Regions from separate parts of the Homo sapiens genome. Here region 2 is linked to region 1. The links come from fine-mapping of genetic effects on gene expression. Tissue or cell type: whole blood. Region 1 holds a variant in brackets; the other region holds the start of a gene. All regions are shown on one strand. Distances are from middle to middle.

The links.
Region 2: NEK6 starts here. The variant in region 1 is fine-mapped to the expression of NEK6 in whole blood (INTERVAL, PIP 0.97).

Annotation. Positions count from the first base shown.
Region 1 is chr9:124,232,003-124,234,908 of GRCh38, reverse strand. No RefSeq gene overlaps it. Among named protein-coding and RNA genes, the nearest start is that of NEK6, 24 kb to the left of the region's middle. The variant G/A (reference allele first, on the strand shown) is at 1,634.
Region 2 is chr9:124,256,252-124,259,157 of GRCh38, reverse strand. NEK6 (NIMA related kinase 6) reads right to left here and starts at 1,209. Exons shown (of 10, transcript NM_014397.6): 1 at 1,073-1,209. RefSeq lists an enhancer at 1-592 and silencers at 630-999, 1,060-1,189.

The DNA.
Region 1 (2,906 bases):
TATTCCTTAATTGATGTATAGGACTATTTGGGTTTTCTGTTTCTTCTTTTTTTATGTATATCAAAAATAGACTTTATTTGGCAATGGCGTATTTCAAGCATGAACACCATATTTTGGAAAACAATAGATTTGACACATATTTGTTACCTAATGTTTTCACAGCAGAAGGCTAGAACAAAATTTGACTTGCTTTCCACAGCTTTTAGAAATTTTTAACCGAGAATATCACTAAACAGCATGAAAGACATTTTCTTGGTGAGGCACTACTTTGCCAATCTTTTTTCACTCCTTTTTTTTTCCTTTCCATGTTTCTTTCTCAGCTTTTCTTACTATTTTTGCTTGGTTTTTAATACTTCAGCCTATTTCATAGACCTCCCAGTGACACCCTTAGGTGTTGCTTTATTTAAACAGTGTACTCAAAGCCAAACATATTATGGCTGGACACAGTGGCTCACGCCTGTCATCCTGGCACTTTGGGAGGCCGAGGAGGAAAGATCACTTGAGGTCAGGAGTTTAAGACCAGCCCGACCAACATGGTAAAACCCCATCTCTACTAAAAATACAAAAATTAGCTGGGTAGGTGTGATGTCACACACCTGTAATCCCAGCTACTCGGGATGCTGAGCCAGGAGAATCACTTGAACCCAGGAAGTGGAGGTTGCAGTGAGCCAAGATTGCTTCACTGCACTCCAGCCTGGGCCACAGAATGAAACCCTGTCTTACAAAAAAAAAAAAAAGACCGGGTGTGGTGGCTCACGCCTGTAATCCCAGCACTTTGGGAGGCTGAGGTGAGTGGATCACTTGAGGTCAGGAGCTCAAGACCAGGCTGCCCAATATGGCAAAACTCTGTCCCTTCTAAAAATACAAAAATCAGCTGGGCGTGGTGGCACACACCTGTAATCCCAGGTACTCGGGAGGCTGAGGCATGAGAATGGCTTGAACTGGTGAGGTAAAGGTTGCAGTGAGCTGAGATCGTGCCACTGCATTCCAGCCTGGGCAACAGAGCTAGACTCTGTCTCAAAAAAAAAAAAAAAGCCAACACATTTTATTATTTCAATGCTGATGACAGTTTTATTGGTTTTGCTACATATATGCTAACATGAAATCACTAACATACATATTCACATAATAAAATTTTAGGCCGGGCGTGGTGGCTCATGCCTGTAATCCCAGCACTTTGGGAGGCTGAGGCAGGAGGATCACAAGGTCAGGAGATTGAGACCATCGTGGCTAACATGGTGAAACCCCGTCTCTACTGAAAATACAAAAAATTAGCCAGGCGTCGTGGTGGGTGCCTGTAGTCCCAGCTGCCGGGTAGGCTGAGGCAGGAGAATGGCGTGAACCTGGGAGGTGGAGCTTGCAGTGAGCCTAGATGGCACCACTGTACTCCAGCCTGGGCGACAGAGTGAGACTCCGTCTCAAAAAAAAAAAAAAAAAAAAAAAATTAACTGCTAGTTTCTCAAACTAAAAGAGAGAAAAAGTAATGTTTTCCCTCTTTTTTTAAACTTGTATTTTTGGTTTGGGGGTACATGTGAAGGTTTGTTACATAGGTAAACATGTGTCATGGGGGTTTGTTGTACAGGTTATTTCATCACCCAGCTATGAAGCCCAGTACCCAATAGTTATCTTTTCC[G/A]CTTCCCTTTGTTTCTTCTTGAGAACTTTGCTAGTTTGTGTCTTTCAAGGAATATGCCCACTTCATCTAAGTTGTCAAATTTGTGGTCATAACTTTGGGCACAATACTTCCTTATTATCTTTTTAATGGTCACAGGATGTGTAGGGATGCCCTCTCTTTCTTTCTTTTTTTTTTTTTTTTTTTTTTTTTTTGAGACAAGGTCTTGCTCTGTCACCCAGGCTGGAGTGTAATGGCGCTATCATAGCTCACTGCAGCCTTGACCTCCTAGACTCAAGGGATTCTCCCACCTCAGCCTCCCAAGTAGCTAAGACTACAAACATGAGCCACCACACCCAGCGAATTTTTTTACTTTTTGTAGAGACAGGGTCTCGCTGTGTTGCCCAGGCTGGTTTTGAATTCCTGGCTTTAAGCAATCCTCCTGCCTCAGCCTCCCAAAGTGTCAGGATTACAGGCAGAGCCACTGCACCCAGGCTTTCATTTTTCTTGTTGGTAATTTGTGTCTTTTTTTTTTTCTTTGAGATGGAGTCTTGCTCTGTCGCCCAGGCTGGAGTGCAGTGGCACTGTCTCGGCTCACTGCAAACTCCACCTCCTGGGTTCAAGCAATTCTCCTGCCTCAGCCTCCCGAGTAGCTGGGACTTCAGGCACACGCCACCACATCTGGCTAATTTTTTGTATTTTTAGTAGAGACGGGGTTTCACTACATTAGACAGGATGGTCTCCATCTCCTCCCCTCGTGATCCTCCCACCTCGGCCTCCCAAAGTGCTGGGATTACAGGCATGAGCCACTGCACCTGGCCCGTGACTTTCTCTTTTCTACTGATTGAAGATGAAGTTTATCAATGTTGTTGATGTTTTCAAAGAGGCAGCTTGTGGTTTCATTTATTTTCTCTCTTGTTTTTCTGTTTTCTAGTCATTGATTTCTACTCTTATCTTATTATTTCTTTCTTTCTACCTGCTTTGGGTTTAATTTGCTCTTCTTTATCTAGTTCCTAAAGGTGGAAGCTTAGCAAATGTATTTATTTTGGGACTTTCTTCCTTTTGAATAAAGCCATTTAATGTTATAACTTTCCCTTTATTGTATTGCTTTATCTGTATCACATAGGCTTAGATATGTTACATTTTCATTGTTATTCAGCTCAAAATATTTTCTAGTTTTCTTTGTGATTTCTTTCTATATATATATATATATATATATATATATATATATATATATATATATACTTTTTTTTTTTTGAGACTGAGTCTTGATCTGTCAATCAGGCTGGAATGCATT
Region 2 (2,906 bases), 24 kb before region 1:
CAAAAGCCTGTCAGTCAAAACTGCAAGGACAGACCTCGGAAGCTGGTGTCCCAAGCCCGCTGTGATCAATTTGTTACTGTCCTGGGATTCACACTTGGAGCCTAGGAGAGGTATAAATAAATCAAAAGATCCGTCTACTTAGCAGGGCAGGCAGAGAGGCCCCCACATACACAGGCAAGTCTAGGGTCAGCCCCCCAGGCCTGGCTGGAGAGAGACAAGAACAAAGACAGGAGAGCCTGGAGGATATTTAGGAAAACACACGTCCTCGGGTGCCCGGCCGAGGGGCCCACCACAGCCTCCGCTCGCCCAGCCTGTGTATGCAGAGAGGGTCCTGCCAGTGGCCCTGCCGCAGCCTGGCTCTAAGACCTTTGCCTCTGTCAGGCCCAGCCAGGCTCTGAGTCTGCCCTCCTGGCCCCTGGTTCACCGGATCAGGCCCAGCCCCGACCCCCAGCCCATGCCAGGCCGCTTCTCTCTCCACGGGCTCCCTGGCTCGGGGGCCATCACTGTGCAAAGGCCTGGTGGGCGCAAAGGGGGCCGGCCCCTCAACCTCAGTAATAAACACGCTCGCACGGCCCTGCACACTCGTTATACTCACACCCACACAGGCATACTTTCGCCCTTCTAGGCTCACGCATGTGCTTGCACACAAATCACTTTGGAATGCACACACGTGCACACACACACTCCCTGAGACCCGCACGTACTCCCTGCGGCGCCCGGCACACTCCTCCGCCCGTCGTCCCCACTCGGGAAGTGGGTAGCGGGGAGCCATGCCCGCGTCCCCGCACGCACTCACCCCAACAACGCCACCAGACGCTCCGGGGTGCACACGCACACCCGCCGGGGACGCGCACACCCCGGGACACGCGGACACGCCGCCCCCGCCCGCCCGGCCGCCGACACGCTCAGCCCCGCGCGGCCACACTCGCGCCCGCCTCCCGCTCTCCCCCGCGGAGCCGTGGGCGCGCGCCCGCCCTCGGCCCGGCTGGGGGTGACGGCCCCGCCGCCCGGCCCCCGCCCTTCTCCGGGCCGCGGGGCCCCACCGGCCCGGCCCCAGCCCCAGGCGACTCACCGGCGCGCGGGCGGGCTCGGCTGCCGCTGGGGGACCGGTGCGCTGGCCCGCGGGCGGCTGGAGCGGTGCGTCCCACACGAGTTTGCGGCGCAGCGGCCGCACGCCCGTCAGCTCGGTTCCGCCGCCGCCGCCACCGCCTGCGCGGGCCCGCGCGCCCGCGCGCCCGCCCCTCCCCGCCGCGGGGCCGCGCCGCCCCCAGCGCTCGTGCGCGCTGCCGCCACGCAAGCTTGAGGGGCGGGGGGCGCCCCGGCGGCGTCCTTCCTGGGCCTGGACCCCTCGACTCCGCCGAGTTCTGCGGCCGATCCGCTCGGCCGAGGAACCCCTTCCCCATTTCAGAGATGGGAAGACTGAGGCCCAGACTCACAGGGCGCAGGCCGGCGTCTCCCCATCTTCTCCGGCTCTAGACTTATGATGAGGGTCTGCAGTCAGCCAACCCTTGGACTCCTGTGCGTCTTCGGATTCCCCATCGCCTAGCATTGCTCCTACCACAGCCCTAGTCATACTGAAATTGGCACAGTAACAAGCACTTATTGTGCACCAGCTGAATGCAGGCACTGAAGTAGGCTCCAAGAGTATTCCGATGAGGGGAAGGCCCTGCCCCCTGCCCTCAAAGTGCCAGCGACTCTTCATCTGGAGCTCCCACTTCCTGTGGCCCCCGGGGGACCAGCAAGAGCCAATGTGCAGAGGTTTCTGGAAGTAGTAAAAGTCCCCACTAAAGAATGTTGAACGCCCCCTCTAGAAGTCAGAGCCTCCCTGAGACCCAAGCAGCTCAGTTCTCACTTCACCTCCTCCCCGCACCGAGAGCGGCCGCTCCTGGCTGGGCTGTTTCCACCCCTGCTGCCTCCCCTCCACATTCAAAACTGTGCTGCACCCCAGGAGGGCTGGAGCCAGGGACACTGACTGCCTGCTTGGGCGCAGCACTGTACTGGGCACAGGGTGAATGCCCGTCTGGCTTCTGTTTGCCAAATGAGTGGAAGTGCTTCAACTGGCCGTGATCTGTAATAATGACACCAACGGAGCGTCCACCACGTGTGCCAACGTTACCCTTGTGCCCATTTTACAGATGGGCTTTGAGGCTTAGAAATGAAATTTCAGGCTGGGTGCGGTGGCTCACACCTGTAATCCCAGTACTATGGGAGGCTGAGGTGGGAGGATGCCTTGAGGCTGGGAGTTTGAGGCCAGCCTGGGCAATATAGCAAAACCCCATGTCTACAGAAAAATGTAAGAATTAGCTGGGTGTGGTAGTGCCTGCCTGCAGTCCCAGCTACTCGGGACGCTGAGGCGGGAGGGTCTCTTGAGCATAGGAGTTAGCAGCTGCAGTGAGCTATGATCGCACCACTGCACTCCAACCTGGACAACAACAATAAAAAGCAAATTCTTTTGTTCAAAGTCACCCAGATGGTAAGTGGTTGAGCTGGAAAGTGCACGGCAGATTGTCTAATTCCAGTGCCTGTGTGGCCAATCACTAGGCAGCCCTGCCTCAGGAACAGCATAGCCCTGGGCTTCTGGAACAAGAGGGCAGACGAGGCAGCAGCTGGCCCACAGGAGCGGGCCTGGTCCCAGCTCTTGTGGATGAAAATGCAGACATCACAAACCAATGGGGAGGAAATGGATTGTTCTGCAAATTGTTTAGCCGTTTAGCTGGAGATCTGTTTACAGCCTTGCCTCCCATGATATACACCACAATAAATGTCAGACAGATTGAAAAGTTAAATAGAAGAAATAAACACTGCAACAAATAATAGAAAGAAATCGAAGTTCTGAGACAGCGTATTGCAGTGTTACTAGAGGATTTGTGATACTGGCCATATTCATGCAGCAAACATTAGTTCAG